Homo sapiens: one gene and its partner. The protein of the gene in region 1 interacts with the protein of each later gene in a pairwise test. Each region holds a gene or a part of one and is shown in the gene's direction. Other genes may lie near its edges.

Region 1 (5,220 bases):
TGAATATATATGTATATATATGTGTATGTGTGTGTGTGTATATATACATATATACACACACCTCATACTTTATACATAATAAACCTAAATGTATCAAAGATTTGAGTGTAAAGAAATTAAACAGAAGAAACTTTGGGAGAATTATTTTACAAATTCAAGAATAAAAGATCAATAAATTCAATCTCATTAAAAAATGATATGTGGCAAAATCCAAAAGCAAAGACAAATGAGAAACTGGAAAAAATATTTTCAGCTCATTCTAAACAAGGGTTAATTCCATAAGATGTGAAGAATGCCAACAAATTGATAAGAAAAAGAACATAACGCAATAGGAAAATGGACAAAGAATATGAACAGAGAGTTTCACAGGAAATACAAATGACTCTTACACATAAGAACTTGATTTCATTTATAATAAAAGGAATATCACTTTAACCTTTCACTGAAATACCAGTGTTTATTTTTCAGTATAGCAAAGATCAAAAAGTTATTAACATACTGCATTAATGAGGGTGTGAGTAACTAGGGACTCTCATACGTTGCTGAAGAGACTATAAATTGGGTCAAATCTTGTGTAGAATAATATAACACTATCAGGCAAAATTACATGTGCACATGTCTGTTGACCCAGCAAATCAACTTCTAGAAATATAGCCTATAGGTAAATTACATATTTTTATGTGTGTGTGTGTATGTGTCATATATATATATGTATTCATGTGTGCATGTATGAAATTCTCTACAAGGATTCCCAGAAACCTGATAACATGCTTTGCCTGGAGTAAGGGTGAGGAGTGGGGATGAGTGATGGTGGAAGTGATACTTTTCACCATACATCCTTTTTATATCTTGAGAATTTTGAACCTCATGAATCTTAAAGTTATTCAAAAATACAAATTTATGAATGTAAATGAAGGGAAAAGTTAGGTACAAGCACTTTGGAGGAATCATTTTTGAACCTCACAGTTTTCCAATCTTCATTTTATAGAGAAAGAGGCATTATTGGAGACTTGACAGCAAATGTCTAACATTATTTCAGAATGAATCTGGATCAAAGTATTATAAGGTAAGGATTTTACACTTTAAAAAATATAAGCATTAAGATAGTGTATGTTTTTTTCAGATAATATTCATTAACTGTTATATTTGAATATATATGACTCTAGCTAGTATGGTTTATAGAAGTCACTGTTAGGTTCCTTGTTGAAGCAACTATTTCCCATACCAAATTTCACTCCCCCACAGCAGCTCTCCTTCCAGACTGTTTGTTGTTGTCGTGTATTTATTTATTTCTGGCTTGCCTGTCAGGTTGCTGCTGCTTTCCTTCTGGATACTCTGATTTAGATTAGACTGCTTAGAAAGTCCCATCATCATTGACTGTCCAGAAGAGGTCAGTGAGGTATTTAGTATTTCTCCCACCTTCCACCTTACCTTGGGTGCCAATTCCCAATTGCTTGTTTGGCTCTTAATCTCCTTTTTACAGTCTTCCTTGCTTGGCTTATTCCACGTTTTGCCACATCACAAACTGATAGCAAGCAAGATTATAACCAAGCAGTTAGGTCAGTAAGAGAGAATGGGAACTAATGGCTTGCTTTGAGCAGGTGTTTTTTTGTTTGTTTGTTTTTAGTAAGTTTTTTTTTTTGCCTTAGGAAGTGGACTAAAAATATAATGATTGCTACAGGTTACTCCAGTGGACAGAACCAGAATGGGAGTGGCTTAAACAACTGACCAAGATTCTGCTTTTTCTGCCATTATTTCTGCTTCTTACTTGCTTTGGGGCTATATCTTGTAGACTACAGTCACTAGATAAGTAGTTGTGAAGCTGAATTAATGACAGTTGGAAGTTACAAGTGTTGGATATAGTGGCAGATTACTCTCCTATATCTTCTTCCTTGCATCCTAATGATCTGCTACTGGCTTAGTTATCATAGTCCATGCTCTGCGTCTGGCATTGCTGGACATTGCAGCTCATTCAAGACAGGCCATGTCATAAGACTCAACTGTGTATTAAATGTTGCATACTTGTGTCCGTCTTAATGGCATTCATTGAAATGCATATCTCTGGTTCTTTAGTGTATTTAAAAATAAAAACAAAGATCTATTCTTATTTTTCAATGCTTAATTTTTTACTTCAGGAAATTCCACTTTCAGAAATTCTCCGCATATCTTCACCACGAGATTTCACAAACATTTCACAAGGCAGCAATCCACACTGTTTTGAAATCATTACTGATACTATGGTATACTTCGTTGGTGAGAACAATGGGGACAGCTCTCATAATCCTGTTCTTGCTGCCACTGGAGTTGGACTTGATGTAGCACAGAGCTGGGAAAAAGCAATTCGCCAAGCCCTCATGCCTGTTACTCCTCAAGCAAGTGTTTGCACTTCTCCAGGGCAAGGGAAAGATCACAGTAAGCAATAAACTTCTTGATGGCTTTTTCTCCTCTTTAATTCTTAAGCATTTTGTGGGTATGGTTGTGTTCCTTTGTTCCTTTTAATGTTCATCCTAAGCTTAGTCTTTAGTAACCAATACTTTAGTAACCAATACAATTAGTTAACTCTTTTATAAAATTATATTGGTTATAGTATATATACGTACATACAATGCCCAGTGCTAGGCTCCAGAGTCAGTTTTCCTACATGAAAATCCTGGCTATACCATCTGTTATATGATCAGGCAAGTACTTTACCTCACTGTAGTAGTAAGTACTTCATAAGGTTGTCAGTATTAAATGAAAGAGAACCTGTAAGATACAGAACAGTGCTTGGCATCCGTAAAGTCTCATTGGATTATGCCTGCTACTGGTATTAATATTTTGCTTTATAGTGGGATATAAACAGGCAATAAAGTATTATGGTTCACATCACACTCATGAAATCTGTGAAGTCAGAAATGCTGTATTAAAACATACAGAAATATTTAAAAATCACTGAAACATGTTTTGCACCAACAAAACTTATATAATTAAGCCTAAATTGGATAAAGTTTCAAAAGTAAACAGTTAACAATCGAAAGGTCACTATAATGTCACTTCTCCCCCATTAACATTATGTTGCTTATGGGGACACATAAGTCATTCATTTGAGAAATATACTCAAATTGAAATAAGTATCAACAACTTTCCAAAGGTAGTTTATTTTAGTTTAGCTGTATTATTTTGTACAACTATTATGCTAGGCCCTGAGCTAAAATACAAAATAAATACAGAAATCATAAAAGCTCTTTAGGGAGAGATGGGATATATAAAGGTATTAGATGGTAGCATAAAGCAGTACAGTGCAAAAGTGAGGAATACATTACTTAAAAAACTCAGATACAGACAGAAGAGTAAACAAGACTTCATAGAAGAACCTGATTTGAACCTCAGGTAGAAATACAGTAGGCAGATCTCAGTGGGAGGGGTGGAGGGGTAACATTATTTAGTTGAGACAAGTGTGATGAGGATCATGACAACTGTGTACATGTTTGGTGTTCAGTACTGATTTGGGGTTGGAATGGGTGTAAGTAGATGGATGTTTCACAGTGGTTCTTAAGTTTTCGAGGTTTTTAGACAGAACTCTATGTCATTCTAATTAAAACTAGGACTGTTTCCTCAGAAAACAATACAGGCACTTACACACTCTTTAAAAGATAAATGAGGTGATTTATTTCAGGCAATAAATGTATTAAAGTACCAAAAAACAACATTATAAAATTATAAAAATGCAAGCAATTTAGAAGTGTATAAAAACTCTTTGTCCCCCAACCCCACCTCTTCCACTCACCAAAAGTAATCACAGATTTTTGTTTTTAATTTAAGCACTGCTACCCTGCAATTCCCTTGACTCCACTTCCCCCCCTCCCCCCACCAAGAGACAGGGTCTCGCTATGTCGCCCAGGTGAGAGTGCAGTGCGCAAATCATAACTTGCTGCAACCTCAAACTCCAGGGCTCAGATCCTCCTGTCTCAGCCTCCTGAGTAGCTAGGACTACCGGTGCACACCACTATGCCTGGCTAATTTTAAAATTTTTTTAGAGATAGGGTATCCTGTAGCCCAGGTGGTCTCAAACTCCTGGGCTCAAGTGATCCTCCTGCCTCAGCGTCCTAATGCACTGGGATTACAGTAAAACTTCCCTTTTTAACTCAGTAATAATCATAACTAGCTTTCTGACTTTCTGATTCAGTATTTATAGTCCTACATCATCGATTAAATGTTGAGATAGTATTCTTTTGTATGGATGTATCATATTTTATCTAGTTTCCTGTTGATGGGTTGTATGTGTAGATTTTGTTAATGTACATAATTGTATTAACTGTGTGCTAAACTTTTTAAAGTTTGATATACCATGAGCATTCACATGTCAGTAAAGATTAATAATATTGTCATATACTAAATTTTGTCTTTTTTATATTTTACAGAAGATTTGTCTACAAGTATCTCTGTATCTAATTGTCAGATTCAGGAGAATGTGGTAAGTAATCGTTATAGCTAATGTGTAAACTGGGTGATTAAAATAAGGAAAATAAAAGGTGAAAATCTTTATTAGAGAAATTGGTTCATCGCCCAAAGTACTAGGCTAGACTTTGCGGTTGGTAACTTCCCTAAGGAGTTCTGCTTTATAGAGGAAACTAGGGCAGATTTTTAAAATTAAAAATAAAGCTAACTTTTTCACTAGAAAAAGTTACATTACAGTGTTACAAAGTGATAAGACTGGTTCAAAGAGAAGGCAGACATTACTTCTTGTGGGGTCAGCAGGGGAAGCTTCCTAAAGGAAGTGCAATTTGAGCTATACCTGAAAGGATGGAATGGATTACTGACAGAAGTGCTGAATGGATGAGGGTTGGGGAACAACCTTTCATGCAAGTACAGGAGCACTAGGATGAACAAACAGGGAAGCAGGAAATGGACTCTTAAGGAATTATGAATAAATTAAGTTGGCTGGTGTATGTAGGTATGTTGAGGGTTTTATAACAGGTCAGCAACTTTTTCCGTAAACTTTTTAGTAAGTACCTTAGGCTTTGTAGACCAGCAGTCCCTAACCTTTTTGGCACCAGGGACTGGTTTTGTGGAAGAGTTTTTCCACGGAGGTAGGGGGTTGGGAGATGGTTTCGGAATGAACCGTGTCAGATCATCAGATTCTCATAAGGAACACACAACCTAGATCCCTCGCATGCACAGTTCACAGTAGGGTTTGCCCTCCTCTGAGAATCTAATGCCTCTGCTGATATGGCAGGAGGC
Region 2 (5,220 bases), on another chromosome or scaffold:
GTATTACATGCTGTTCGGCAAATTCTATCTCATGATGTAAGACTGACTTAATTTTCCTCTACTTTGTGTCTGTAGCTTTGTGTGCATGTGTTAGGGTTTTACCTTAATTATTCTTTAAGATACTGAATTGGATTCTGAATCTCTGATAGTATTCTTTAAGATACTGTATAGAGATTATTGGCTTCACTGTTTCTTAAGAAGCAGATGAAGATGGCAAATTCTGCACAAAAAAAGCACTTACAATTTTTTTTCTAAGGCTTGTCTTACTTTCCCCTCTCTGGAAACATCTTCAATTGAAGTTATTTTCCTCTCCGCATAATCCTGTTGCTAATCAGATACAGAAGACAAAGAGGATAGCAAATGAAACCAAATTCAGTGGATACACAAGCCATATAAATAGTAAAGCAATTTTACATTTAGATAGGCATTCTGATGTTTGGATATTATTGGGGTGGAAATGGCTATTATAAAAACAGGGCTTTTTTTACCCCTGGTTTTTTATTTTTATTTATTTATTTTTTGAAACAGGGTCTCACTCCATCACCTAGGCTGGAGTGCAGTGGCATGATTTCGGCTCACTGCAACCTCTGCCTCCTGGGTTCAAGCGATTCTCCTGCCTCAGCCTCCCGACTAGCTGGGAATACATGCACATACCACCACACCTAGCTATTTTATTTTTTGAGATAGGGTCTCACTCTTCACCTAGGCTGGAGTGCAGTGGTGCAATCTTAGCTCACTGTAGCCTTGACCTCCTGGCTCAAGCCATCCTCCCACCTCAGCCTCCCAAGACGCTGTGACTACAGGCACGTGCCACCATGCCCAGCTAATTTTTTTTTTTTTTTTTTTTTAAGAGATGAGGTTACATCATGTTGCTCAGGCTGGTCGTGAACTCCTGGGCTCAAGTGATCCTCCTGCATCAGCCTACCAAAATGCTGAGATTATAGGCATGAGCCACCATGCTGGTCTTTCCTGTTTTTTTTTTTTTTTTTTTTTTTTTTTTTTGAGACAGTCTTGCTCTGTCACCATGGCTGGAGTGTAGTGGCACGATCTTGGCTCACGGCAACCTCTGCGATTCTCATGCCTCAGCCTCCTGAGTAGCTGGGACTACAGGTGGGTGTCACCATGCCCAGCTAATTTTGGTATTTTTAGCAGAGGAGGGGGTTTCGACATGATGGCCCGGCTGGTCTTGAACTCCTGGCCTCAAGTGATCCGCCCCTCCCAAGTGATCCTTGGCCTCCCAAAGTGCTGGGATTACAGATGTGAACAGCTGTGCCTGGCCTCCTGTTTTATTTTTTTGAATGATCATCATGCCACTGCACTCCAGGCTGGGCAACAGAGTAAGACTCCATCTCAAAAAAAAAAAAAATTATCAAATAAAATTCTGTGTAAGAATTCTGTGTACATATATTATATACAACAAGTTGTTTTGAAATATGTATATATTGTGGAATGGCTAGATTGAGCTAATTTATATATGCATTACTTTATAGACTTATCTTTTAGGCCACTTAAAAATCTACTGTCAGGAATTTACAAGAATACAATACATTGTTATTAACTATTGTCACCAAATAATGTTTTTTTTTTTAATATGGAATGCTTCACGAATTTGTTGTCCTTGCGCAGGGGCCATGCTAATCTCTATATCGTTCCAATTTTAGTATATGTGTTGCTGAAGCGAGCACAGAACAGTTCTTAATATTACGTTTTTATCTTGGAAAGATATCTGGTAAGGTTGGGACAAATGCAGTTTCCTGTGGGTAAAAAATAGGTAGATGCTAAGTACAGAGCGCAGTAAAATTTTAACAGAATGGTTTGGACCAAGGTCATTTTGTGAAAATGAAAAACTTCTTGGTTAAAAAAAAATGAAGTCTGGGCGCGGTGGCTCACGCCTGTAATCCCAGCACTTTGGGAGGCCAGGGCGGGCGGATTACTTGTGGATGGGCGTTCAGAGACCAGCCTGGCCAACATGGTAAAACCCCATCTCTACAAAAATACAAAAATTAGTGGGCATGATGGCACCCGCCTGTAATCCAGCTACTCGGGAGGCTGAGGCAGGAGAATCACTTGAAACCAGGAGGTGGAGGTTGCAGTGAGCCGAGATTGCGCCATTGCTCTCCAGCCTGGGGGACAGAGCAAGACTCTGTCTCAAAATAAAAATAAAAATAAAAATAGATGAAAAGATGCTCCATACTTAGATGTTGAGAAATTAATTTTGACTGTCTGAAAGAAATCTTTCCCATGTGCTTGTTGCATTTAACTTGGAGTGTGTGTTAGAGTGTGGGCGAGAGTATAAGAGTATGGGTCAGAGTATGAGATTTGAAGGATGATTTACCTGGTGGGAAGCTATTGAGGTGTGAAGCTTTTGCTGTGGTGAGTATTTGGATTATCATAGTCACCATCATTCTATGAAACCACATAAGTCTGCCAGACTTTTATTATGTAGAAGTCTTCCTGGTATTAAGCAATAATATGTGTTTGTTTCTGCAGGTACTTCTTCCTGCCCTCTCTCCCACCATGACCATGGGCACAGTTCAGAGATGGGAAAAAAAAGTGGGTGAGAAGCTAAGTGAAGGAGACTTACTGGCAGAGATAGAAACTGACAAAGCCACTATAGGTGAGATTTCTTCAGCTCTTAATGGTTGAGGCACTGAGTTTCCCAATGAGGAAGAGGATTGCCATTCTTTCCTATAATGAGTGAGTGATAATATGAAAACTTTATAATTCTTAGGATTCATTTTCTGGGACAGAATATTTTATTTTTATTTAGTTATATGTATTCTTTAGTTTTTATTTATTTATTTGTTTATTTGCTTATTTTTCAGACAGGGTCTTAATCTGTTGCCCAGGCTGGAGTGCGGTGGCAAGATCATAGCTCATTGTAGCCTTGAACTCCTGGGCTTATGCCCAAATGATCCTCCTGCTTTAGCCTCACAAGTAGGTAGGACTACAGGCCTGAACCACCACACCTAGCTGATTTTTTAAATTTTTTGTAGAGATGGGGTCTCACTTTATTGCCCAGGCTGGTTTTGAACTCCTGGCTCAAGCGATCCTCCTGCCTTGGCCTCTCAAAGTGCTGGGACTCCAAGCGTGAGCCCCTGTTCCTGGCCCAGCATAATTTATAACAAAAATAATGCGTAGTCAGATTTGTCAGTTCCATCCTGTGCTCACTGAATCAAAGGCAATCAATCTGTCAATTCACAGATTATTTTTAGGCCCAAGTTTGCTTCTTGGCCTTATTATGTTACTGAGAAGCTATATCAGAATTGCTGCTGTCTAAACTAGGCAAAGGAAGTCAAGAAGAAACAGGAGAAAATCACTTCCATGGCAGGATAATAGCAAAGAATTTAAGATGACTTTGAGGGAAAACTGAAACCAGGGTTGAGATTGTTTTCATAGTTTGAGAATGACTGATAGAATGTATGTGTGTAATATATATATGTTCAGATATGTCATATGTCCACATATCTCCTTCTTAATTCATTTTTAGGCTAAAAAAACCCATATAGACAATAATATATTTATTATTATTATTTTTTTTTTTTTTGAGACGGAGTCTCGCTGTGTTGCCCAGGCTGGAGTGCAGTGGCGCAGTCTCAGCTCACTGCAAGCTCCACCTCCTGGGTTCACGCCATTCTCCTGCCTCAGCCTCCCGAGTAGCTGGGACTACAGGTGCCCGCTGCCACGCCTGGCTAATTTTTTGTATTTTTAGTAGAGATGGGGTTTCACTGTGTTAGCCAGGATGGCCTTGATCTCCTGACCTCGTGATCCACCTGTCTTGGCCTCCCAAAGCGCTGGGATTACAGGCGTGAGCCATGGCGATTTGTAGTATTATGAATTTCTTCTCTCTGCACCCCCGCTTTTTCTTTTTTTTTTTTGAGACAGAGTTTTGCTCTGTCACCCAGGCTTGAGTACAGTGGTGCGATCTTGGCTTACTGCAGCCTCCGCCTCCTGGGTTCAAGCAATTCTCCTGCCTCAGCCTCCCGAGTAGCTGGGACTACAGGCATGCACCACCATGCCTGGCTAATTTTTTGCATTTTTAGTAGAGATGGAGTTTCACCATGTTGGCCAGGCTGGTCTCGAGCTCTTTAACCTCAGGTGATCTGCCTGCCTCGGCCTCCCAAAGTGCTGGGATTACAGGCATAAGCCACCGCACCCAGCCTCTCTGCTTCATAATCACCACCAAAGGGAAGCCTTTCCCAAAGATGTAATGGGAGGTACTGGGCATCCTCTGCCTTGGTTGTTTTCAGATTGTGTTCTTCAAATCCCATCATTCCTTTAAGGCACCTTGAGGCAAAGGGGGAATTAAAGAGCAGGACCTTACAGCCCTGCCTCCCTGCCTTACTTCCAGCAGAGCAGTTCTTTTCTATCTTTTTGTATTTTGTGCTTCCCCATAAATTTTATTTGAAGAAAGGATTCTGTTTCTTAAAAACACAGAAACTTTGGAAACAGTAGTTCTGCTTCACCATTTAACTTGAATACCAGTGTCACTATAGAGACTAGTCACTAGAGAAGTGTTACCTTGGTTGAACTTTGAAGTCTATTGTGGCCCAGGAGCCTTTTCATTTTAAACACTTCTTTTTTTTTTTTTTGGAAACAGAGTCTGGCTCTGTTGTCCAGGCTGGAGTGCGGTGGCGTGATCTCGGCCCACCACAACCTCTGCCTCCTGGGTTCAAGCGATTCTCCTGCCTGAGCCTCCTGAGTAGCTGGGACTACAGGTGCATGCCACTACGCCCGGCTAATTTTTGTATTTTTAGTAGAAATGTGGTTTCACTATGTGGGCCAGGCTGGTCTTGAACTCCTGACCTCGTGATCTGACTGCCTTGTGCCTCCCAAAGTGCTGGGATTACAGGCGTGAGCCACCACCGCACCCAGCCTTTTTTTTTTTTTTTTTTGAGATAGAGTCTTGCTTTGTCGCCCAGGCTGGAGTGCAATGGCATGATCTTGGCTCACTGCAATTTCCACCTCCCGGGTTCAAGCAATTCTCCTGCCTCAGCTGCCCAAGTAGCTGGGATTACAGGCGCCTGCCACCATGCCTGGCTAATTTTTGTATTTTTAGTGGAGATGGGGTTTCACCATGTTGGCCAGGCTGGTCTTGAACTCCTGACCTCAGGTAATCCACCTACCTTGGCCTCCCAAAGTGCTGGGATAACAGGCGTGAGCCACCGTGCCCAGCCTTAAACATATATATATATATCTCCAGACTTAAACATATATATA

Evidence for each region.
Region 2: the proteins of PRKD3 (region 1) and DLAT interact in a two-hybrid assay, tested with the Homo sapiens proteins (one large-scale study listed by BioGRID and IntAct).

What each region holds. Positions count from the first base shown.
Region 1 is NC_000002.12:37,271,613-37,276,832, reverse strand, and holds part of PRKD3 (serine/threonine-protein kinase D3), read left to right. Parts: intron 1-988; coding exon 989-1,066; intron 1,067-2,135; coding exon 2,136-2,412; intron 2,413-4,400; coding exon 4,401-4,453; intron 4,454-5,220. UniProt on the Homo sapiens protein: Converts transient diacylglycerol (DAG) signals into prolonged physiological effects, downstream of PKC. Involved in resistance to oxidative stress.
Region 2 is NC_000011.10:112,030,914-112,036,133, forward strand, and holds part of DLAT (dihydrolipoyllysine-residue acetyltransferase component of pyruvate dehydrogenase complex, mitochondrial isoform 2 precursor), read left to right. Parts: intron 1-2,490; coding exon 2,491-2,617; intron 2,618-5,220.